Linked DNA regions of Homo sapiens: all the other regions are linked to region 1. The links come from fine-mapping of genetic effects on gene expression. A gene starts in region 1. Each other region holds a variant in brackets. All regions are shown on one strand. Distances are between the middles of the regions.

The links. PIP is the estimated chance that this variant, and not a neighbour inherited with it, causes the effect.
Region 2: its variant is fine-mapped to the expression of NDRG3 in whole blood (TOPMed, PIP above 0.99).
Region 3: its variant is fine-mapped to the expression of NDRG3 in whole blood (INTERVAL, PIP above 0.99).
Region 4: its variant is fine-mapped to the expression of NDRG3 in whole blood (TOPMed, PIP 0.98).
Region 5: its variant is fine-mapped to the expression of NDRG3 in stomach (GTEx, PIP 0.94).

What each region holds. Positions count from the first base shown.
Region 1 is chr20:36,743,324-36,748,426 of GRCh38, forward strand. It overlaps NDRG3 (NDRG family member 3), which reads right to left and starts at 2,767. Exons shown (of 16, transcript NM_032013.4): 1 at 2,722-2,767. RefSeq lists enhancers at 2,230-3,196, 2,921-3,020 and silencers at 2,391-2,580, 2,611-2,810.
Region 2 is chr20:36,783,581-36,788,683 of GRCh38, forward strand. MTCL2 (microtubule crosslinking factor 2) reads right to left here. Exons shown (of 15, transcript NM_080627.4): 15 at 1-3,057. The coding sequence ends at 2,905. Among named protein-coding and RNA genes, the nearest start is that of DSN1, 12 kb to the left of the region's middle. The variant G/T (reference allele first, on the strand shown) is at 2,922.
Region 3 is chr20:36,684,518-36,689,620 of GRCh38, forward strand. NDRG3 (NDRG family member 3) reads right to left here. Exons shown (of 16, transcript NM_032013.4): 4 at 4,162-4,267; 5 at 2,975-3,095. Among named protein-coding and RNA genes, the nearest start is that of SLA2, 41 kb to the left of the region's middle. The variant T/C (reference allele first, on the strand shown) is at 2,247.
Region 4 is chr20:36,721,931-36,727,033 of GRCh38, forward strand. All of the region lies in intron 1 of NDRG3 (NDRG family member 3), which reads right to left. Among named protein-coding and RNA genes, the nearest start is that of NDRG3, 22 kb to the right of the region's middle. The variant A/G (reference allele first, on the strand shown) is at 2,887.
Region 5 is chr20:36,813,895-36,818,997 of GRCh38, forward strand. It overlaps MTCL2 (microtubule crosslinking factor 2), which reads right to left. Exons shown (of 15, transcript NM_080627.4): 4 at 3,513-3,575; 5 at 1,232-2,413. Among named protein-coding and RNA genes, the nearest start is that of DSN1, 43 kb to the left of the region's middle. The variant A/G (reference allele first, on the strand shown) is at 2,831.

The sequences.
Region 1 (5,103 bases):
TCTCCACTAAAAATACAAAAAATAGCTGGGCATGGTGGCGGGCGCCTGTAATTCCAGCTACTTGGGTGGCTGAGGCAGGAAAATCGCTTGAACCCAGGATGCGGAGGTTGCAGTGAGCCGAGATTGCGCCACTGCACTCCAGCCTGGGCAACAAGAGCGAAACTCCGTCTCAAAAAATAATAATAATAATAATAAAACAAAAGCAGCTCGGCCTGGCTTGGTGGCTCACGCCTGTAATCCCAGCACTATGGGAGGCCGAGGCAGGCGGATCACGAGGTCAGGAAATCGAGACCATCCTGGCTAACACGGTGAAACCCTGTCTCTACTAAAAAAATACAAAAAAAATTAGCTGGGGGTGGTGGCGAGCACCTGTAGTCCCAGCTGCTCAGGAGGCTGAGGCAGGAGAATGGCGTGAATCTGGGAGGCGGAGCTTGCAGTGAGCCGAGATGGCGCCACTGTACTCCAGCCTGGGCAACAGAGCGAGACTCCGTCTCAAAAAACAAACAAAAACAAACAAAAAACAAACAAAAAACAAAAGCAGCTCAATCGTGAGTGCACGTTCAAGTAACATAAACAAGCTTTTTTTTTTTTTTTTTTTTTGAGACGGAGCTCTGTTGCCCAGGCTGGAGTGCAGTGGCGCGATCTCGGCTCACTGCAAGCTCCAGCTCCCGGGTTCACGCCATTCTCCTGCCTCAGCCTCCCGAGTAGCTGGGACTACAGGCGCCCACCACCACACGCGGCTAATTTTCTGTTATTTTTTAGTACAGACGGGGTTTCCCCGTATTAGCCAGGATGGTCTCCATCTCCCGAACTCGTGATCCACCCACCTCGGCCTCCCAAAGTGCTGGGATTACAGGCGTGAGCCGCAGCGCCCGGTCCATAAACAGGCTTTTTGATGCAAGACTCTTATCTGCAAGTTTTCAAAAACAACAGGGTGGATGGAGGCCTTTGAGTGGTAAATGGTGATGACAAGTTTAATCTGAAGGAAGAGACAAGCAAAGAGAAACTGAAGGGCAGGAAGGAGGAACAGAAGGGCACCAGAAGAACACCACGCTTTGAGTAATGAAAAGGGGGGGTGGAAATTAACTGAGTCCTTACCAAGGATCTACTGTGAGCCAGGCATCTGGAGCTGCAAAGATGGACCATGCCCTCAAGGGGCTAGAAGTCCGCAGGGTAAGACTGAGGCTAAGACCCTGTTTTGTGAACGTGTAATTCTAATTGGGAAAATCAAGCAGGGAAGGCTTCACAGAGAAGGTGGTGATTTAGTGGAGCCTTTGAAATGTGGAGGAGGATTTGCTAAGGGAGAAAAACGACAGTTTGAGCTAGTTATTTTGGGGGAGAAACATTCACATATTTTTATAGCTGTTCATTTGGAACTTTAAATCATGGGAGGCTTCTTAAATTCAGCACCACTCTATCAATGTTCTCTTTCTCTTCTTGCTTTATCTTAAATACTGAAATGTTCAAGCCCAACCTTGGGGCAAAGGCAGAAAGCCTCGGACAGAAAGCCCCGGAATGAGGTGAGTGCTAGCCAAATCTGCTCTGTCACCTCCAAGTCCAGCCCGCCCAGCTAGCCCAGTCAGCCCAGTCCTGCTCTCTTGGCAGGAAAGGAAGGCTAATAATATCCCCTGAGGGCCAGGGTAAGGGGGGGGGGGGGCGCGGCGGGGGTGATCTGGATGCCAGCAGGCAAGGATCACTCTTGTTCTGTCAGTAAGCCACCAAAGGAAAGCTTCCCTGCTTCCTAATCCACGGGGCTCCTAGTCTACCTGTGATAGGGAGGCCAGCTCTGCAGGAAGAAAAAAAGGGCTTCATGACAAGGAAGGGGGAAGCATTTGGATTGGGAAGTGCAGAGGTGGTTATGCGAGGTTATCTTAATAAAATGCTTAGCAAGATCCCTGGCACACAGCGAGCGGTGGAAGAACGTTAGCTCTTATATTAATAACACTATTATTATTACAGTAACACCTCAATTGTACTCCGACAACAAGAAAATCTTTTTTGTGCAGCCTACTTTTACGACGTTCGAGAGCAACTTCAGAGATGACAAGTGATTTCAAAATTTTTTCAAAGGTACGAGATCAAATTCCAACCGCACTGGCCTGAGAGCCCGAGACCCTGAGTTGAGAGCTGACCCTGCCACTTGTCAGCTGCGTGACCTTGGGCATGGCACTTCACCTTTCCGTGCCTCAGTTTCCTCGGCTGTTAAGTGGGGCTAAGAAGCCTCTCCCCGGTAGGGTAGTCGTAGGGTCCCGTTAGAGGATGCCCTCTGCTGCTCTGGGGCCGGACGGGTGCAAGGGCTGCTCACGGCCCCTCTTCCAAGCATCTGGGCTCTTGGAGCGGGCGAGGTAGATGGATGAGCAACCCCAAGGCCCACCAAGCTCTGCCGCCTGCAGAGCCAGAGCGAGAGAAGGGTTCGCGCCTGCGGGGGGCGTCCCTGTGACCCAGGGTGTTGAGCCCGGAGGGAGGCTCTCTTGCTACCCACACGCTGTCGCCGGCGGGCTGGGCGCGGGGAGCGGCCGAGGAAAGCCGGGCTGACCTGGGTCCGGCGGGCGGGCGGGGCGGGGCAGAGGGCCCCGGGGGCACGGGGGAGGCAAGCAGCACGGGCCACCAGGGCCTCGCCGTGCCGCGGAGATGATGCGGGGAAGGAGCAGGGCAAAGGAGCGACGCCCCCGAATGCGGCGCCGCGCGCCCCCCGCGGGCCGGGCGGAGGCGCTCACTCACCTGAGGCGCGGGCACCCGCCGTCAGTGCAGCAGCAGCGGCGGCGGCGGCGGCGGCGGCGGCGGCGGCGGCGGCGGCGAGAGGGGCGGGGGAGGTGCTGCGGTCCGCGCAGGCGCGCCGAGGACGCCAGGGCGGCGCATGAGTGCTGTGCCCGTCCACCTCGGGAACTACCGAGAAGATGGTGGCTGAGCCAGGAGAGGCCGGCGGCGCCATCTTTGATGTAGTTTTTCTTGCTGCGGAGTTTCCTCAGAGAAGAATCTCAGATTTTGGAGGCGCTGGGCGGCAGGGCCATTGAGCTCTGCGTCTGGAGCGCTTCCCTCAGTTCCCTGAGTCGCATCCTTATGAAGCCCCTAAGAGCTCTTGCAGGGTATGGCATCCTCCTTTTAAGGTGACCTAGAGCCATACCCAAGGTCACAGGGCGCCTAGCACAGTGCTCGGCACGTGGAAAGAGCTTAGTAAATTTTTGGTGAATGAACATAGTAATTTAAGAACTAGAGTCCAAGACTCAGGGCTCCGAATTACCAGTCCTCCATTGTATCACCCCTATTACAACCGTCAGCCAAATCATCTACTTTCTTGAATGCAACATTAGAGATGGAATTTTTTTTCCCAGAATGATTGCAGATATTAAACTTAATGACCCAACAATTTAACACCAAAATGTACAGGACACACTCTTCCTCTATTTATTATCTATTATTTCTTTACCATTAAGTACCACTGACTAAAAGTTTTTTTGTTTTGTTTTGTTTTGTTTTTTGAGACGGAGTCTCACTCTGTCGCCAGGCTGGAGTGCACTAGCGCGATCTCGGCTCACTGCAACCTCTGCCTCCTGGGTTCAAGCGATTCTCCTGCCTCAGCCTCCCGAGTAGCTGGCACTGTAGGCGTGTGCCACCGGGCCTGGCTAATTTTTCTATTATTAGTAGAGACGGGTTTTCACCGTGTTGGCCAGGATGGTCTCGATCTCTTGACCTCGTCATCTGCCCGCCTCGGCCTCCCAAAGTGCTGGGATTACAGGTGTGTGAGCCACCACGCCCTTTTAACCCGAGCCAGTGTCGCCATCTCGGCTCAGGTTCCCAAGTCCCTCAGCCTCCCAAGTAGCTGGGACTAGAGGCGGGCGCCACCATGCCTGGGTAATTTTTGTATTTTTTTTTTTTTAGTAGAGATGGGGTTTCACCATGTTGGCCAAGCTGGTCTCAAACTCCTGACCTCAAGCAATCCGCCTGCTTCTGCGTCCCAAAGTGCTGGGATTACAGGTGTGAGCCACCACGCCCGGCCACTAAAAGCATATTCTTTTAATTAAGGCAAACTGAACAAATGAATATTACCAAACATCTCAGAGGGCAGCAATAATATTGTTATTCATCAAGCACAATTCTTGAACTGAATTTAGTTGGAAGGAAAACTAACATTAATTGAGCACAGCCATTTATTTTATGGTTTATGTTCGTTAACATTTACTGAATTCAAATTAGTTCTAGTTCACCATCCACTATTTATCCCTATGTCCTTGGTTAGACAATTAAGTCTCTCCACACCTCTCCATGCCCGAATTCCTCATCTATGTCACACACCCAGAAATAGAAGTTACAAGGTTGTGGCAAAGACTGAATGATAATATGCATGTAAAATGCTTAGAGCTCAGTAAGTATTATTTTTCTTTGTTCTATCGTATTTTACTGTTGAAGACACAAAACATACTTCTTGAGTTTGAAGAAATCCTTATAAGCAAAAAATGCAATACAATGTAATAAATAAAAAGGGGGAGGGTATAATCATCTTTAGAGAGATAATCTGTCCCCATTTTACAGATGAGGAAATTGAGGATAAAATGAAAATTCATGGCCGGGCGCAGTGGCTCACGCCTGTAATCCCAGAACTTTGGGAGGCTGAGGCGGGCAGATCATGAGGTCAGGAAATCGAGACCATCCTGGCTAACAAGGTGAAACCCCGTCTCTACTAAAAATACAAAAATTAGCTGGGCGTAGTGGCGGGTGCCTGTAATCCCAGCTACTCGGGAGGCTGAGGCAGGAGAATGGTGTGAACCCGGGAGGCAGAGCTTGCAGTGAGCCGAGATTGCGCTGCTGCACTCCAGCTTGGGCAACAGAGCGAGACTCCGTCTCAAAAAAAAAAAAGAAAAAGGAAAATTCACTCCAACTCTCTCCATTGTACTACTTTGTTTATGAAAGAGTAGGCAATTAAGAGCATTTCTCTGATTCTTGAGATACAGATAGAGATAGATATAGACGAGGGTCTCACCATGTTGCTCAGGCTGGTCTAGAACTCTTGGACTCAAGCAATCCTCCTGCCTAGGCCTCCCAAAGTTCTGGGATTATAGGCATGAGCCACTGTGTCCCGCTCTGCTCTGATTCTTAAATGTTGGA
Region 2 (5,103 bases), 40 kb after region 1:
AAGGAGGAGAAGAAGGGAATAGCAGTAAAAGGCAGAGAGGCAGGAGGAAGGGGGAGAACGGGTTCGAGAAGGGCAGCATTCCTTCTTGGGACCCCAATTCTCCAGGGAATCCCCACTGTGGGTCAGGCAGTTTTCTGCTTTGGGAATGTTACCAAGACTTAAAAGGCATTTGAAGAAACCAACAAACTTAGAAATCACATTCCAAAAGAGTAGAGAATTTTTACAAACCAATCCCCCCACCCCAAAAAAGAAAACAACCAGTTACCAAGTAAAATGCTAAAAACCGAACCAAACCAATATTTACATGTAACATTTTCAACCCCATCCAGCCCCACGTCCAGAGGCTTCTGCAGGAACAGTGATGAGTGGCCTTGCACAGTGGCATGCAGGAAGTAGAAACTGGGGCTTTACTGAAAACCAAGGTCTGGCTGAGACAACAAAGATGGCAAGGACAATCCTGGACGGTACGATGGTAAGGCTGAGTGGTCCGTAGGTCTTGGGGCTCAGGTCCCACGGGGATTTCTCCCCGAGGCTGAGTACGCAGCCTCCCTGGCTGTCGCTCTGGGAGGTGGCAGAAGGCCTCTGGTGGCTTGTGGCCTGATGTGAATCCCCTCACCTGGAGATAACCTTGGAGGGCCCCCCTGACCTCATGGGTGAGAGCAGCAGCATCCAAGAGCGGAACTGGCCCACAGCTCCACTGGCTGCCTGCTCTGCCCACACCAGTCACTGGGGCATGGAGGAGGCGGCTGGCGGGACTGGCATGACCCTGGTGTTCAGCCTGCAGGGAAGGGAGATGCAGGACTTGGGGTAACTGGTCCAGGTGATCCCGAATGGGTGGGTCTGGGAACTGGCAGGTGGGAGGTGGGAGTGCAGGGGCGCCTCCAGAGTCCTGGGGGCAGATCAGCAAAGCTACTGGCTTTTGGTCTTCCTGATGGGCAATTCTGCAGACAAGCTGATCCATCCTGGTGTTTCCACTCTGGGTCCCCAGTCAGTTACAGGAAGGCTGATGTCTATGTGTGTGTGGGGAGCATGTGTGCAACCAAAAGGGGTTCACCGGCACCAAGGCGAGGCCATGGGAGGCGCTGCCCCACATGCTGCAATGAGCCACATCGAAATCCAACCAATGGCTCAGGCAGCTCACAGGGGACGTGAGGAAGGGCGGGCAGCAGAGCTGGGGCAGGGAGAAGAGCCGTGAAAGGCCATAAGGCTAAGGAGAGAGGCTGGTGAAAAGGCTGGCAGGCTGGTGAGAACCGAGGCAGGCTGGGAGACACTCAGGTTTATGTGCAAAGCTGCGATAAACAACATTCTCAAAGTTCAGTCCTGTTTTCCTGTGAGTTCTCATTTGGGAAACTTGGAGGGATCTCCACACTCTTAATAGAGCTTTAGTAATCCACGTTCGACTCATGAAGAAAGGTGTCAGAGGGAGGGAGGGAAATGAGACAGGCAATGGAGAACGTCTGGGGAGTGGTGATGGCCGTCCAGCCCTCCACCTTGTCAGTGAGTATTTATAGACTGACCGCTGGGGCTGGCCAAGTACCAGGCATTGAGTAATAAGTAGTGTTCTGAGGCCACATGGCCAGCCGTGTTGGGGTGCAGGGCTCCAGCTCTGTTGAGGGGCCCTCCAAAGCTGACCAGGAGGCCAGGTCTCCAAACCTGGCTGCCAAGCGGCCTCGTCCACCCAGGGGACCCCATGCCTGCCCGTGCTGTTAGAGGCCTCATGTTGTCCCAGTGGCAAGAATGCATGTTTCAACCTCCAATAAATTACCTTAGGGACTTTGGGGTAAATTAAATTATTAAAATAAAGTAAACCACCTTAAATATTTATAGTAGGAAAAATTCAAATAAACAATCTAGGCAAGATACGTGTTTCCAGGCCCCAGTCTACTGCTGTGTCCTGGGCTCTGGCCTCTTGGTGTTCTCCTGGGCCTGACCTGGCCAACCAAGAATCTCTTACTGGGAATATCTTTGCCCCCCGACCAGCTGCAGGATGTAAACACAGTGGAGATGTAGTGCCTGCTGCCTCTCAGGGTGCCAGGGAAAGAGGCCTCTGAGATCACTTGAGATCAAGGCAGTGTATTTAGGCATTTATCTATGCACCAGGTCTTGAGACTGACTCTACCTATTTCTGTCCTCAAGGGGTCTGCTGGGAACGTTGGGGCCCCAAGTCACTTTGGCAAGGAAGGCAATTGCAATCACTCCCCAACCCTGAGCCCTGCATGTTTCCACTTCGCCTCCCAGCTCTTGCTGCATCCAGGCTATGGGCAGGGAGATCCAGGGCTCCAGGACACTAAGCAATGGCCCTGGCTACTGCCCTATCATACTCCCTAGTGTCCCAGCAATCTAGAGCAGTGGGGCTGGGAGGAGGAGGTGGTGGAGAGAAGGAGGTGATGGTGATGATGCCCAACAGGGCTCCACCAGGAACCAAACATGGAGCCCTAGAGCAAAGCCTGTTCTTCTCAGCAGTGTCTCCTCCCAAATGAAGGGGTGGATGGTCAGCAGGAAACATCTCTCCGACTCCTTTTCCCCAAAGGCATGGCCAGACATGTATCCTTCTTGGGCTCTTCCAAGAGGGTGGCATGGGCAGAACCAGGCAAGGCTCTCTCTTAGGACCCAGGGATCGGCTCTTGACAGATCTCTCAGTGGATGCTTGGGAAGCCCAGGTTTGGTCTCTCTCCCACTCACTGCCTTCCCCTGGGAAGTCGAAGCTCACCACCCAGGGGCCAGCAGGAGACCCGGCTTTACCTTGATGTGAAAGCTGCATTCTGGCAGTGGCATCACTGCTGTCCCTCCAGGGCCAGGCAATGCTGAGGACACAGCCCCTCGCCTCACCTCGTCTCGTCTCTGCTGGTTCCCTTCTGCTATCCAGGGGCTGGGCTGGTTGAGGCGGGGAGCTTGGCTGCTCTGTCACTCGCTGGGGGGGA[G/T]TGCCCTCTCCTCCCCACCCCAGCTGGACTCTGAAGGGTGCAGCCTGCACTTGGAAGGAGAGTGGCGGATGGCAGAGCGGGACGATCGGGCGAAGCAGGAGGTGAGAGACTGGGTACTACAGTCACAAACAGCGTCCTAGGAAGAGGGAGGCAGGGAGGCAGGAAGTCAAGAGGAGCCAGGAGACATGGACCACCATGAGCTGTGTGGTATGCCAGGCAAGGAACTGAGACTCGGCCATAAACCAGTTCCCAGGGGCTGAAGCTCCTCACTGGACCAATTTTTTCTTTCTGTTGTTCTTCTCCCATTAGAGCGGTAATGGAAGTTCATTGTAATATATTCTAGGCTATACAGAGAGGACAGTGGACACTGTCCATGGTCCTGCACGCCAAAGAGATTCTTAACATACATTTACCAAAATGACAGCTTATTTTGCAACTGTAAAACACGAACACTTTTCTGTCACTAGGTATGTCTAGATCTCCTTCCTTTTTATCCTTTTTTTTCGTTTGAGACAGGGTCTCACTATGTTGCTCAGGCTGGTCTTGAACTCCTGGGCTCAAGCGATCCTCCTGCCTCAGCCTCCCAAACTGCTGGAATTAGCACCTTTGGGTGCTCATGCCTCCCAAAGGCATGAGCCACCATGCCTGGCTGATCGCCTTCTTTTTTAGTGTCTCTGTACCATTTCACTAGATAGAAATAACTGATTTATATACCCAATTCGCTTTTTTTATTTTTTTATTTTTTAGACAGAATCTTGCTCTGTTCCCCAGGCTGGAGTGCAGTGGTACGATCTTGACTCACTACAACCTCCACCTCACGGATTCAAGTGATTCTTGTGCCTCAGCCTCCCAAGTAGCTAAGATTACAAGCGTGTGCCACCATGCCTAGCTAATTTTTGTATTTTTAGTAGAGAGGGGATTTTAGCATGTTGGTCAGGCTCAAACTCCTGACCTCTAGTGATCTGCCCGCCTCGGCCTTCCAAAGTGGTGGGATTGCAGGTGTGAGCCACTGTGCCTGGCCCCAATTCACTTTTTATGTACATCTGGGTAGTTTCTAATTTTTTACTATTACCAATAAACAGAAATAATGATCAAAAGTGCTGCTGCCAGGCACGGTGGCTCATGCCTGTAATCCTAGCACTTTGGGAGGCTGAGGCAGGTGGATCACGAGGTCAGGAGATCGAGACCATCCTGGCCAACATGGTGAAACCCCATCTCTACTAAAAATACAAAAATTAGCTGGGCATGGTGGCATGCGCCTGTAGTCCCAGCTACTCGGGAGGCTAGGGCAGGAGAATCGCTTAAACCCAGGGTGCGGAGGTTGCAGTGAGCTGAGATTGTGCCACTGCACTCCAGCCTGGGTGAAAGAGCAAGACTCCATCTGAAAAAAAAAAAAAAAAAAAAAGTGCTGCTGGACAGCTGGCCATGGTGGCTCACACCTGTAATGCCAGCACTTTGGGAGGCTATGGCAGGTGGATCACCTGAGGTCAGGAGTTCAAGACCAGGCTGGCCAACATGGTGAAACCCCATCTCTACTCAAAATACAAAAATTACCCGGGCATGGTGGCACATTCCTGCAGTCCCAGCTACTTGGGAGACCGAAGCAGCAGAACGGCTTGAACTCAGGAGGCGGAGGTTGCAGTGAGCCGAGATCACATCACTGCACTCCAGCCTGGGGGACAGAGTGAGACTCCATCTCAAAAAAAAAAAAAAAAAAAAGTGCTGCTGGGCTGGGCCATGTGGGAGGCTGAGACAGGAGGATCCTTTGAGCCCAGGAGGTCAAGGCAGCAGTGAGCTATGATTGTGTCACTGGGCTCTGGCTTGAGCAATAGAGCAAGACCCCATCTCTTTAAAAAATAAATAAAATGGCCCGGGCGCGGTGGCTCATGCCTGTAATCCCAGCACTTTGGGAGGCCAAGGCGGGTGGATCACGAGGTCAGGAGATCGAGACCATCTGAAACCCCGTCTCTACTAAAAATACAAAAAATTAGCCGGGCGCGGTGGCAGGTGCCTGTAGTCCCAGCTACTTAGGAGGCTGAGGCAGGAGAATGGCGTGAACCTGGGAGGCGGAGCTTGCAGTGAGCCAAGATCGTGCCACTGCACTCCAGCCTAGGCAACAGAGCGAGACTCCGTCTCAAAAATAAATAAATAAATAAATAAAATAAAAGTGCTGTGATAGAGC
Region 3 (5,103 bases), 59 kb before region 1:
AATTCCCAGTTGCTAGAACAGCTGGAAAGGTCCAGAAGTCTTAGATAAAAGGCTGAGCGCAGTAGCTCATGCCTATAATCCCAGCACTTTGGGACACCGAGGTGGGCAGATCACCTGAGGTTGGGAGTTCGAGACCAGCCTGACCAACATGGAGAAACCTCATCTCTACTAAAAATACAAAATTAGCTGGGTGTGGTAGCACATGCCTGTAATCCCAGAAACTTGGGAGGCTGAGGCAGGAGAATTGCTTGAACCTGAGAGGCGGAGGCTGCCGTGAGCGGAGATCATGCCATTGCACTCCAGCCTGGGCAACAAGAGCAAAACTCCGCCTCAAAAAAAAAAAAAAATCTTAGATAAAAGCATTTCCTTTTACCAAAGGCTCAAAGGAGGTGATGTGGTACCCTGAAAATGATTGTGGCATATTGTGTAACTCTCTACAACTGCCATGCTAAGGAGAAAGTAAAATAATCCACGGTTTCTATATCCTAACAAGCAGCCCTTGGGACCAGAGGGTGCCACATGAAAAGAACTAGTAACATGGTTCTCTCTTAGGGTATTTCCAAACCTCTAACAATCTCTTCAGTTGGAGTCCAGGCTCAGTAAACCTCCGGCAGTAAGAGTCAACTCAGAAAGGGGGTCTTGGTCTACTGCTATATTTAGGCAACTAAATGCAAAAATAAAGCTTTTCTAGGTATGGGCACACAGTTACAAACCCTTAGCATGAATGCTTATTTGTTTCACTTAGGCATAGAATAACATAGTTATTTTTAAAATTTTATTATTATTATTATTATTATTATTAATTTTTTAAGAGACATGGTCTCACTCTGTCACCCAGGCTGGAGTGCAGTAGTGAAATCATAGCTCACTGTAACCTTGAACTCCTGGGCTCAAGCTATCCTCCTGCCTCAGGCTTCTGAGTAGCTGGGACTACAGGCGCATGCCACCATGCCTGGCTAATTTTTCAATTTTTTGTAGAGATGGAGTCTCGCTATGTTGCCAGGGCTGGTCTTGAATTCCTGGCCTCAGGTGATCCTCCTACCTCAGCCTAACAAAGTGCTAGAACTACAGGTGTGAGCCACTGTGTCTGGCATGGTTATTTTATTGTATTTGAATTTGGTTCATAATATGAACCATCTGATCCTAAGATGTTCGAGCAGGCCCAGGAACAGACCCAGATCAGAATTCCTAGAAAAGTAGTAAGCATCCGACTGGGAGCGTTGGCTCACGCCTGTAATCCCAACACTTTCAGAGGCTGAGGCAACCAGATTGCTCAAGCCCAGGAGTTCGAGACCAGCCTGAGCAACAGGGCAAAACCCTGTCTCTACAGAAAATAACAATAATTAGCCAGGCGTGTTGGCACACACTTGTAGTCCCAGCTAGTAGGGAGGCTGAGATGGGAGGATCACTTGAGCCCAGGAGGTTGAGGCTGCAGTAAGCCATGATCACGCCACTGTACTCCAGCCTGGGAAACAAAGCACTATCCTATCTCAAGAAAGAAAGAAAAAGTATTACAGAATTGGAGATGGAATTGATCCTAAGATGACCACTTATATATGAGGCAGGATCTGTTCTACATCTGACAGGGAAGTCAGCCTGCCTCTGCCTGAACACTTAAGGGGATGGTGTGCTGTGGAACCATTTGTCCACAAAATAGAAAAAAGGAACTGGATACAAATCTTGTTGGATATAAACTGACCACTGGCCAATTTGCATTTTAGAGTCAGATTCTGGCACCAGACTGTCTGGGTTCAAATCTTAGCTCTGCCACTTATTTGTTATGTAATGTTAGCCATGTTACTTAATTTTTCTGGGCCTCAGTTTCCTCACTTATAAAATGGGAATAATAGTAAACTTATCCCATAGGGTTGTGAGGAGTAAATGAGTTAACAAATGTAAAGCATTTAAAGCAGGGTCTGGAACACGGTTTGAGTACTATTTAAATATTAGCTATTATTTGTCTGCAATTGTCTATTTCCCAGCAGTCACTGGCCAAAGGCAGCTCTGGAGATGAGTGAAAGGATAGGGGAAGAATTAGCATTCCACAGAGTGTGTGCTCACTCCTCCTAAGGTCTTCTCAATAAGCACCCGTCCAGGGAACAAACAGGTAGGGAGCCTATGACTCTGCCCTGCGAAGCAGATGTAGGAGGAAGCTGAGAGTGCCAAAGCCAATCAATCACCCCACACCTCTATCTGCCAGGACAGCCTCTCAGAATAAACAGTTACACAGATAGTCAAATTTCCAT[T/C]ACTAGTTTGAGAGCTAAGGATGGGGAGATGCTCCCAGGAAAGCTCAGAGAGATCTGAATTTGGGCCTAAGTAGTTGGGAGTTTTGAGGAAGGACACAAAAATGACAGGTTTTTTTGTTTGTTTGTTTTCTTTCTGGGGACAGGGTCTTGCTCAGTCATCCAGGCACTGCAGCCTCAATCCCCTGGGCTCAAGTGATCCTCCCACAACAGCCTCCCAAGCAGACACGACCACAGGTGAACACCACCATGCCTGGCTGGCTAATTTTTCAATTTTTTGTAGAGACAAGGTATTCCTATGTTATCCAGGCTGGTCTTGAACCCCGGGGCTCAAGCAATCCTACTGCCTTTGCCTCCCAAAGTGCTAGGATTATAGGTGTGAGTCACCACGTCTCGCTAAAAAATGACAGCTTTCAAACAGATAAGGAAGGGAAAGATAAAGACAGTGAGGAGTAGATGTTCCAGACACTTATGCCTTGAGATTACAGGAAAGCAGGCACCTGCTATGGAGAGCCATTCCTGGATATGGGAAAACACACAGTTTCCCCCAAAAAACTGTACATAACAGTCCTCTCAGCCCAAGGAGAGAAAATATGAGGATGGTTGGTCAATAAGCATAACCTATAGACGGTAATAAAATCAAAGGGAAGCACACACCACTTCTCCCACTGGAGCTCAGCCAGTTGCTCTACTGAGTGCACGTCTCCCAGATGATCTTTTCGTGGCCTTACCCTGTTGGGAAAGAGGGTGCACCTTCCTGCTGGCCTGGGGCATCCACATGACAGACAGCAAAGTGCTGGGTGATCTCTTGCATATCCTCAAAGTTAAAGAATGCATTGAAACAGGATTTATCTATAAGAATAAAAATACCCATAAGTCACAGGCTCTCCATATCGCCCCAATTTTCCTCTACTCAGTCAATGCCTATTATCACCTTCTTTCCCTGCTTTTTAACCACCATTCCACCAAAGTGAGGTGTCTGAACAATCTGTCTGATTCAAGCTGCCCTAAAGGCTGAATATAAGACATCTCATATTGAGATACATATTGAAAACAATTCTTAATTCTAAATAATGTCTGCAAAGTAGAAATTACTTTGTTAATATTTGGTGGTTTCCGATTATTGCACAAAATAATCTTACACCCATAATGCTGTCATTTCTCATGGACATTATTCCTCTATCTCACAAACAGACACTGATTATACCCCAAGAGCACAGGTGGCGTGAATGTCCTGAGCTGTTCACATTCACCACACGGGAGTTTGTCTCTTGGCAAAATTGCCAGAGTGAAGGGAGGGGCTGCTGCTTCCACTTCTACCCTCTTTGTATACCTGCTTAAATCACTTCTCATGCCAAGGCAGCTACAAAAGCTTTAACACTCAACTGTGGCCTCAAATGCAGGGCATCTATGAAAGCCAGAGCAGCATGAAAGAAAACACATGTATGCAGACTCTGTGTGTCTATGGCTGGGGCCAGAATCTTACACTACCATCTAGAAAAGTCCACTTAAAGTCACTGGTGACAGGCTCTAGCAAGAATTCTTACTAATTCATTGAAGAGCTCACAACAAAGTTAAGTTCCAACTCTGAATTTTCTAACCTGAAACATATTTAAAAAAAAAAAACAGAGTACAGGCTTGAAAACATGGATTTCAGTTCTACTTTCTTAGCAGTGCATTGTATAATCTGCAATCCTTTAGCAGACATGAAGGCGAGATGTGATTCCAGTATCCCCAGAATACATTCCCCTGCACACTTCCCAGGAACTTTATACCATTAACGAATGTAGGAACAAGGAGGGAAAGTTACCACAGAGAGGGGGAAACCTCTGCTCTATTAGAATATTGTTGTTGTTTGGTTTTTAACATACAAAGATCAAGTATGATAAGAAGGGAAGGTGTAAAATAAAATACATACGGTTGAGGCCAATGTCATGATATGTTAGTATAACTGGTCTGTTTCCTTTGGGTAAGCCTCTTATAGTGACGTGGACCACACCATGAGTTGTTTCTATATCATGTTCCTGTAACAAGAGAATGTAAGTTCTCAGAAAAAGCAGAATGAACTTCCCAGGTTGCCAAAGTTTCACAATACCTGCTTTACCACCGTTTCCCACGAGCTGGGGCAGGACACATTAATAAATTACATGTGGCTGGGCGTGGTGGTTCACGCCTGTAATCCCAGCACTTTGGGAGGCCTAGGTGGTCGGATCACTTGAGGTCAGGACTTTGAGGATCAGCCTGGCCAACATGATGAAACCCTGTCTTTACTAAAAATAAAAAATCAGCCAGGCATGGTGGCACACGCACATAATCCCAGCTACTCAGGAGGCTAAGGCTGGAGAATCACTTGAACCTGGGAGGCAGAGATTACAGTGAGCTGAGATCGTGCTACTGCATTCTAGCCTGGTGACAGAGCAAGACTTCGTCTCAAAAAATAAAATAAAATAAAATAAATGCATACCAGAGAGATGCTAGAGTATACATAATATTCCTACTTTCCAATTCTTCCAGAAAAATAAATAGGGAGCAAAACACACCTTGTTATCTCCAAAGCTCACTTACGAGCCCAGGGATCTGTTGAGAATACATTTGCAATTGGCTATGGAAAGGAAATCAGCAAATTGGGTAAGGAGCCAGGTAAGACTTGTGGGGAAAAAAGGAAATGGAAGATATGAAGAAGTTGCTGGGTAAAAAATCAGAGGTTTTGGAGCTTCTGAACACATGTTCAGATAATTTATAATTAATTTCAGTAGATAATTTCACCAGACACCTATGGGTGTATCTGCCTAGGATCCCTTCTTTCCTGGGAGCTGTCCTTCTGTGTCATCCACACGTTACAGGGGTGGATCTTGGCTAC
Region 4 (5,103 bases), 21 kb before region 1:
AGACACTAACCTGGTCTATAGGATTCTTGCCTCCTGGTATTCACATCCTTGCCTAATACCCCCAGTGAGTGTGCGCAGGGCCTGTGGCTTGCTTTTAACCATTAGAATACGGCAAAAGTGATGGAATGTACATGAGTGACTTTGCATGATTACATTATATAATATTTTCACATCTGTCTTGCTGAGGGACACTCTCCCCTGCTAGGTCTGAAGAGGCAAGCTGATGTGCTGTGAGAGGGCCACGTAACAAGTAACTGAGAGCAGCCTCCAGCAGAAAGACAGCAAGAAACTGAGACCTTCAGTTCAACAATCTGCAAGGAACTGAATGCTGCCAACAACAGGAGCCTGGAAGCAGATCCTTCCCCAGCTGAGTGTCAGAGAAGAAGCTGACCGACACCTTGATCGCCATGTTGCAGAGGACCTACACAGCCCACACCAGACTCCTGAACCACAGAAACTGAGAGACAATGAATATGTGTTGTTTTAGGCTACTACATTTGCGGTAATATTTTTATGCAGCAACAGATTAATACAATTAATACAATAGTCTTTGCTCTCATGGAGCACACGTTTTAGTTACTGAAGACGGATAAAGAAACAACATACTCAAAACTATGCTTGGAACAGACTGGAAGACGGATTAAGCGGGGACAAAAATTGAAGATTATTACTGCAGGATGAGGACTTGAATTAGGAATGGCAGTGGGAATGAAAGAGGAGGGAACCAAGGCTAAGCTTACTAATCCTCATTTGGGGAATCACAGCAGTGGGTGAAAGGTATGGTAGTCAGCTCCAAGATGGCCTTCAACGAGCCCAGTGATCCCTGACTCCTGATATTCATTCACACATATGTATAATCGCCCACCCAAATAAATCAGGGATGGCTCGTGTAACTAATAGAATATGGAGGAAGCAACAATATGTGACTTCTGAAGCTGCATCATAAAACGCATTACACTTTGTGCTTCAAGACACTATAAACTACTAGTTCTAGGGGAAGCTAGCTGCCAAATCATCAGGACACTCAAACAGCCCTCTGGCGAGGCCCATGTGGAGAGGAACCAACTTGCCAGCACCAACCTGCTAGCCATGTGTGTGAGTTACCTTGCAAATGAATCCTCCAGCCCCAGTCAAGAGTTCGGATAGCTACAGCCCCAGGGACACCTGACTGCAACCACATGAGAGACTCTAAGTCAGAACCACCCTACCAAGCCTGCTCCCAAGTTTCTGACCCACAGAAACCATGAGAGATAATAATTTTGTTTTAGAGTGATCTATAGCAATAGAGAACTAATACATAGGGAGAGCAGAATGGGGAGCTCAGAGAGAGGAGACAAGTTGGAGAGAGGTAGGCAGGGTAATGAACTACAAATTCTTCTTCTATCTCACCATGCAAGAAGCCATGGGGATAGGCTGCAAATACTCAATATTGCAGGAAAGTGATTCCCACCTAGACTTCAAAGCTTCAGGCATCATCCTTTTTGTCTTGGCCCTAAACCTATCAAGTCAGGAAAAATGTTAATTCAGAGTTGGGGATTTACATTTAACAACCATTTATTGAGTACCCATTGCACTATGGAAGATACAAAAAGGGTCCCTGCCTCTAAAGAGTAGAGATGATGTTGATCTACAAATTGATAAATAAAAAGAAGGGCCATAGGAATTCAAAGGAGAAGCAATTATGTCTGATTGGTGGAAATCAAGAAAGCCTTCAAAAGATATTAGTCTAGTGTGTGTGTGTGTGTGTGTGTGTGTGTGTGTGTGTGTGTCTGGTGTTTTTGTTTTTTTTTTTTTGAGACCTAGTCTTGCTCTGTCACCCAGGCTGGAGTGCAGTGGCACAATCGTGGTTCACTGGAACCTCCGCCTCCTGGGCTCAAGCGATTCTCGTGCCTCAGTCTCCCGAGAAGCTGGGACTATGGGCACCTGCTACCATGCCCAGCTAATTTTTGTATTTTTAGTAGAGACAGGGTTTCACCATGTTAGCCCGGCTGGTCTTGAACTCCTGCCTTCAAGTGATCCACACACCTCAGCCTCCCAAAGTGTTAGGATCACAGGCGTGAGCCACTGCGCCCGGCCTAGTGTACTATATTAATCCACTTTTCTGTTTACCTTCTAGAGATAGAATGACATGATTTTGATTTAATTACCTATGGAGAGGGTATGTGTTCCAGGCTACCTTTTAGCTATTATTTGCCAACACACTGAAATAAATCCTGCTCCCAGCTATGCCTATGTTAGAACAGACTAACAAAAAAGCCCTCTTATCATTTATTCAAGGGACTCAGAGGATGTCTATTGAGAACACTCCTCAGGCTATGAACCCCACATGCTAACTGTGAATATTCCAAAAGTGTGAACCACCTAGAGACCACAAATTTGATGATGTTTAACCTCCCTATAGGACAGTGGTTCTTTTGTCAGATCGCAGGCACCCATATACTTGATTGAGCTACTTAATGCCCAGAAGTTGAATCTTTTTTTGTTTTTATACCAGTCACATTTCAAAAGGGGGTGAGGTGGCTTGACTCTTAAACAGTGAGTTTCAGCCAGCATCTACATTCTCTTTTTCACAGTCCCCACTTAACTCTTAAAATATTGGCCTAACTGGAATCTACTCCATGTTTGTTTATTAATAACACTACAAACTGTGGCTACTTTTTATTTGAACTTTACTATTTATCAGTTATTTTAAATGGCAATTTAAAAGCGTTTTCCGGCCGGGCCCGGTGGCTCGCACCTGTAATCCCAGCACTTTGGGAGGCGGAGATGGATGGATCACCTGAGGTCAGGAGTTCGAGACCAGCCTGGTCAACATGGTGAAACCCCATTTCTACTAAAAGTACAAAGATTAGCTGGGTGTGGTGGCACACGCCTGTAATTCCAGCT[A/G]CTCCAGCAGGCTGAGGCACGAGAATCATTTGAACCCAGGAGGCGGAGGTTGCAGTGAGCCAAGATCTGTCAACTGTACTCCAGCCTGGGCAACAGAACAAGACTCTGTCTCAAAAATTTAAAAACAAAACAAAACAAAACCAGCTTTTTCCCTTTTATAAAAGCAATATGTGCTCACTTTAGAAAATATGAAAATCGGCCGGGCGCAGTGGCTCACGCCTGTAATCCCAGCACTTTGGGAGGCCGAGGCAGGTGGATCATTTGAGGTCAGGTGTTCAAGACCAGCCTGGCCAACATGGAGAAACCCCATCTCTACTAAAAATAAAAAAAATTAGACAGGTGTGGTGGTGCACGCCTGTAATCCCAGCTACTCAGGAGGCTGAGGCAGGAGAATTGCTTGATCCTTGGAGGTGGAGGTTGCAGTAAGCTGAGATTGCGCCACCGCACTCCAGCCTGGGCGACAGAGTGAGACCCTGTCTCAAAAAACAGAAAAGAAGAAAATATGGAAATTGGCCGGGAATGGTGGCTCACGCCTGTAATCCCAGCACGCTGGGAGGCCAAGGTGGGTGGATCACCTGAGGTTCGAGACCAGTCTGGACAACATGGTGAAACCCTGTCTCTACTAACAATACAAAAATTAGCTGGGTGTGGTGGCAAGCTCTGTAATCTCAGCTACTCGGGAGGCTGAGGCAGGAGAATCGCTTGAGCCTGGGAGGCAGAAGTTGCAGTGAGCTGAGATCGCACCACTGCACTCCAGCCTGGGTGACAGAATGAGACTCCGTCTAAAAAAAAAAAAAAAAAAGAAAAAAAAGAAAATACAGAAATCACAGAATAATGAACAGATAATTTACTCATTGTCCTTCCACCTAAAGAAAACCATTTTAGCCTATTTCCACTTGTTTTTCTTTTTCCCACTTAAATGGTGATTTCCTGAAATTGTTTTTTCAACTCACCCACTTTATCCCTACTTTAATTCACTCACTGGAAAGCAATGCACTTCAAGATGGGAATTATTCAAATATGACTCCACATGGGTGGGCCTGTCAAAGGGTCAGAGAGAGGCCTAAGGTGCCCTCAAGTCCAAAGTGACTGGCATTCACCTAGTGTTCCTTTTTTTTTTTTTTTTTTTTGAGATGGGGTCTTACTCTTTCACCTAGGCTGGAGTGCAGTGGCACAATCATGGCTCTCAACCTCCCAGCCTCAAGCAATCCTCCCACCCCAGCCTCTCACACAGCTGAGACAATGGGCATGTGCCACCATGCCTTGCTAACTTAAAAAACATTTTTTTTAGAGACAGGAGTTTCACTATGTTGTCCAGACTACTCTTGAACTCCTAGACTCAAGCAATCCCCCTGCCTTGGCTTCCCAAAGTGCGGGATTACAGGTGTGAGCCACCATACCCATCCCTAAGTATTTTTTTAAAGATGAAGAAAAATGCAATTTTTACACCAACAAACACTTAAACAAAGACACAAATTAAATGAGAAGGCTGTCCCTATCAGCTAGGCCCAATGCAGGCTCAGGCGACAATGTTGTGCAGGACAGTAAGCTGCTCCAGGGTGACTCAGGATTTGGCAACTTGGCAGTAGACATTCACCTTCCACTATTAGGGGATCTAATGCATTCTTCTGGAGACTCCATTTTTGCTCCGCTTTCAATGTCTCAAGCCCTTGCCAATGAGCAGTTTTATAACATATACAAGAAAACTAAGATTCTGGTGGAAAACTCCATCTCCAGATCCCTCAGCTGCACAGACGGGCTCCCTCCTGGGGATCCAAGGCCTGCAGTTCCGGCATCTGTACAAATGGTATGGCTGCCAGATCCCATACAGGTACTAAAAGCTATTAATATTTTCAAAAGGCAAGTAGGGATTTTATAAATTGCAGTCAATAATTTTTGCCTGTTTCCTAGTCATATGAGTAGGAGGGAGGATTGATAAGGAAAAACTAGCCATCTTCAAATTAAGGAAATGAATCTGATACCAAATGGCTAGAAAGGGAAAGGAGAAAAGGTGGCTACCTACTCTGTCAGGAATTATAATCTCGGCACCTTATGTTTAATCCTCATAACAATCCTCTCTGGTAGATATCTTTCTTTCTTTTTTTTTTTTTTTTCCTGAGACAAGAGTCTTGCTCTGTTGCCCAGGCTGGAGCACAGTGGGGCGATCTTGGCTCACTGCAACTTCCGCCTCCCAGGTTCAAGTGATTCTCCTGCCTC
Region 5 (5,103 bases), 71 kb after region 1:
CATTGTCTCTTCACTCAGTGTCCTGGACACACCACGCTCCTTCCGCCTCTGATCTGAGCTGTGTCTTTGCACAGGCTATTTGCTCTGCTGAAAACACTGTGTTCCCCCAGCCATCCATCCCTCTGACCTCTGGTCAGATCAGAGGCCTTCCCTCAGCATAGGGTCTAGGTCAAGTTCCTTGTTCATAAAACCATGTACGCTTCCTTCAGATTCCTCTCTCAGTGTCTAATTGCACATTCACTGACATGATATTTTGGGTGACTCTGCCCCACTAGATGATAAGGACCATGAGAGGGGGAATCATATCTGTTTTTGCTAATCATGACATCTTCAGCAGTGAGCACAAAAACTGTGTGAACAACAGACAAGGCATCATAAATTAACAAACTGATACATTGCGTTAAAAATATAAGTTGTGTAGTAACAATAGATATAAAGCAATCTGGGTGGAAAAACAAATATATGATAGATGTGTAGAGAAGGATTTAGAAGGACAAGCTGCAAGGATGAAATATTCTAGATCCACTCTACTAGACACACACAAATACTGAACATTTAAAATGTGACTATTAGGCCACACACAGTGGCTCACACCTATAGTCCTAGCACTTTGGGAGGCTGAGGCTGGTGGATCACTTAAGCTCAGGAGTTCAAGACCAGCCTGGGCAATATGGCAAGATTCCATCTCTACAAAAAAATTTAAAAATTATGGCCAGGCACAGTGGCTCACACCTGTAATCCCAGAACTTTGGGAGACAAAGGCGGTCGGATCACTTGAAGTCAGGAGTTCGAGACCAGCCTGGCCAACATGGTGAAACCCCATCTCTACTAAAAATACAAAAATTAGCCAGGCATGATGGAGGGCGCCTGTAATCCTGGCTACTTGGGAGGCTAAGAGAGGAGAATCGCTTGAACCTGGGAGTTGGAGGTTACAGTGAGCCGAGATTGCGCCACTGCATTCCAGCCTGGGTGACAGAGCGAGACTCCGTCTCAAAAAAAATAAAAAATAAATAAAAATTAGCTGGGTGTGGTGGTGCTCACTTGTAGTCCCAGGTACTCAGGAGAGTGAGGGGGGGAGAATGGCTAGAGCCCAGGATATCGAGGCTGCAGTGAACTGAGATTGCACCACTGCACTTCAGCCTGGCCAGCGGGGAGAGACCCTATCTCAAGAAAAACAAAACAAAACAAAGGAAAAAAATAAATAATAGGATCTGTGCATGAGGCACCTTACCTGAAAGTCTGAGCCAAGGTCTTTTGCCAGAAGAATCTCCTTAGAGAGCCCCTGGGAGCCCAAGGGGGGCAGTGATGAGAAGGACTCCTGCTGTTCCTTGACAGAGCACCCGAGGACTGCATCTGCCTTCCGCGTGAAGGCATTCAGCTCCTGCTGCAGCACGCTCAGGCGCACCAGGATGGCATGGATGAGCTTGGTGTCCCTGGGGCCCTCGCTGTTGTCGGGGGCCTCATGCAGCCGGAAGTCAGCACACTCGTTGTCCAGACACAGCCGGAGGCCAGCCGTGAAGCCATTGGCATCAGCCACCAGGACATCGATGGCCTTACTGACCAGGGCGGCCTGCTCTCTCAGCCCAGGCAGCACCTCGGCCTCCCTGGCTCTGCAGAGTCGGACCGCATGGGACTCGTGTGTCTCGCCCAGGGGAGCAGGCACACACTGGGCAGAGTCCCCGGCCTCGGCGTCCGTCTCCAGCATGGGCCGCGTACTCTGGCAGGAGGCGAGGTCACAGCGCTGGAGGTTGGAGAGGAGCACGCGGTTCTCGTACTGCAGCTTCTTGACCTTGCCGCTGAGCTCGCCGATCTGCAGCTTGGCGGCCGCCAGCTCCTCCTGTGAAGGTTCGCTGAGCACAGAACAACTGTCCTCCGACAGCGCCACGTCCAGCTCGTGCTCCGAGCGGAACTTGGCCAGCTCGTTCAGCAGCAGCTTGTTCTGGTCCTCGAGCTCGGCAGAGGAGCGCCGCAGCAGCTCGGCCTCCTCTTCGACAAACTGCAGGTGTCGCCGCAGCTCTGCCAAGCTCTCCCCGCACTCTCCGCCACCCAGCGCGGAGAAGGCCAGGCGTGCCTCAGGACCCCCACAGCCACCTCCATGATCCTTCATGTCGTCCATCTCAGCCCGCAGGCCTCGGTTCTCCACCTCCAGCTCCACGATGCGGCGGCTCAGCAGGTTGGCTTCCTCCTCCACCAGCTTCAGGTGCACCTTCAGCTCGGTCTCCCGCGAGTGGGGGGCATCGGCCAGCTCCTCGGCTGACAGCGCGCTGTCCAGGTCCCCATAGAGCGAGCGGTACTTCAGCAGCTCCTCCTTCATGCTGTCATTCTCCTTGGCAAGCTTAGTGAGCTTCTTGCACATGAGGGCTGACTCCTCCTTTGCAAAGTGCAACTGGCACTTCAGGTCTGCACTGTCCTCCTGGGACCACAGAGACAGACACAACCCAGGAAGGTTAGTGCTGGGAGTCTCAGTACCAGCCATGGCATTTTGGGGAGCACTATGTGCTGGGAACACAGGGATGAATCAGACACAGCCAGACCCTCAAGGAGCTAAGGGTCCGGGGGAGACGCAGAGGGGTAGATGTTGAAATGACAGCAAGGATGGGGCGCCACACATAGCCTGGGAGTACAGGAACAGGTGACATACTGATGAGCAACTGCTGCCACTACAGTTTCATCAGTAAAATGGGGCGGTAACATTACCTCCCTCCCAGAGCCACAGACGGGATTAAATGAGCTAAGGATGAAAAGGGCCTGGCACTCTGACAATCCCATACCACTAGGAGCTAACGGTATGTGGCCTTTGCTGCATATAGTACTTCATCCAATTCTTCCA[A/G]TGAACCCCCAAGACAGGGATAGATAGGAAATGGAGCCCAGAAACTCAAAATGACTCGCTCCAATCACATGGCAGTCAAGTGGCAGAGCCAAGATTCAAGCCTGGGTCTCCAACTCTAGACCTTTGGATTTGACTGTAGTGCTGCTTGCTAAGTTCCTGGCTGGGGTGGGGAGCGAGCATCTAAGCATCTAAGAACCATGGGCTCAGGATGTGGTTTTGGGAAATAAAGTGGGCAGTGAAACTAAGAAAATGAGCAAGGGGGCCGGGCGCAGTGGCTCACACCTGTAATCCCAGAACTTTGGGAGGCCGAGGCAGGTGGATTGCTTGAGGCCAGGAGTTCAAGACCAGCCTGGTCAACACGGTGAAACCCTGTCTCTACTAAAAATACAAAAATTAGCCAGGTGTGGTGGTGCACGCCTGTAGTCCCAGCTACTCGGGAGGCTGAGGCATGAAAATTGCTTGAACCTGGGAGGTAGAGGTTGCAGTGAGCTGAGATTGTGCCACTGCACTGCAGCCTGGGCAAGAGAGTGTGACTCCGTCTCAAAAAAAAAAAAAAAAAAGAAAAGAAAAAAAGGAAAATGAGCAAGGGGAGGACAGGGCAGAATCTGGGATCCCCAGGCCACTTAGAGTCAGGCTCAGGTCTTCAGAATAAAACCTTCCTACGGGGGCTGCTGGGAATTACCTGCACCAAAGTCTTCTTATCGGCCTTCCCCAGGGAGCGGGTTCCTCTTTTCTTCAAGGAATGCTGAAGTGAGATTTAATTAAAAAAAAAAAAAAAAGTCAGGACTGAAAGCTCACAGAATGATGCACATGCAGAGAGCTGTCACAGTGCCCAGGGTCCAGGGAGGGCCCCAGTCCCCAGGCCACCCCACCCTGATGGCACTGACTGTTGAGTAAGAGGAGCCCTCCAGATCACCCAGTGAGCAGCAATGGGAGATAGGCCAGAAGCATTGGAGAAGATGATTCTAAAAACACCTGCTCAGGGCTCCTCCCCTCCAGCCTGCTCCCATGTGTGACCCAGTTGGCCTCGGCGAAGACTTGGAAAGCTGTGTTTCTGTTCTCATTTGTCTTTCATCAAAGGATTTCCTGAGCACCTATCAAGCGCCAGGTAGGTAGGTGTAGAGAACACAGCAGTGAACCAGGGAGGATGTTGTGGTGCTTTGCCCAGATTCCCCTTCGGAACTGAGACACTCATTCCCAGAGCTGAGACCTCAAAGCTGAGTACCTCTCCCAGCGACAGCCATTGGTTGAGGAGAACCACCTTGTCCAAGGGCAGGTGCTATCCGTGGATGGAGCCCACATCCAGGGATGGGTCCATGACCCCTTGCCTCAGCTCTACAGGGAGGGCCATCCTAGCTCCAGAGCTCCCCATGGGATCGCCTGAGATCACTGGTGTAATTCAGCTTCCAGCTCTGCCTCACTCCCTGTGGTGTTGTTCCCAAGGAGACTCTTCCATAAACCTCTGCATGCAAATCTCCATCTCAGAGAAAATCCTGTCTTCATGAAACTGACATCTAGTGGGAACTGTAATTCAGAATGAATACTAATGGATAAAATGAATATGGAGGCTGGATGTGGTAGTTCATGCCTGTAATCCCAACACTTTGGGAGGCCAAGACAGGAGGATTGCCTGAGGCCAAGAGTTTGAGACCAGCCTGGCCAACATAGCAAGACCCTGTCTCAAAGAACAAACAACAACAATAAAATGAATATAACAAATCGTAATTACACATGAGGCTTAGAAATGGTCATAAGAGACTGATGGCAAACAGTGATTCAAAAATCCAGAAGCTGGTCTGGCATAGTGGCTCATGCCTGTAATCCCAGTACTTTGGGAGGCTGAGGTGAGAGGATTGCTTGCATTGAGGAGTTTGAGACTAGCCTAGGCAACATAGCAAGACTCCACCTCAAAAAAATAAGATGTTTAAAATCCAGAAGCAATAGGGGAAAAAATAGATACATTTGATTATACAAGCAAATTCTGCATGGAAATAAAAACACCTTAAGAAAAGTAAAAACATAAATGACAAACTCTGAAAAAATATCTGCAATGTACAACACCAACAAAGGGTTGATATCCTAAATATGGAAAGAGTTTCACAAACAGAGCATTAAAAGGCCAGCAGACCTGTAGGAAAATAGGCTAGAGATATGAAAAACAGTTCACAGGAAAAGAAAGGCAAATGGATCATGGCACATGAAGACATCAAGGCACATGATGATATTCAACCCCACTCCTGTTAGATAAATGCAAATTAAAATTACACTGAGAT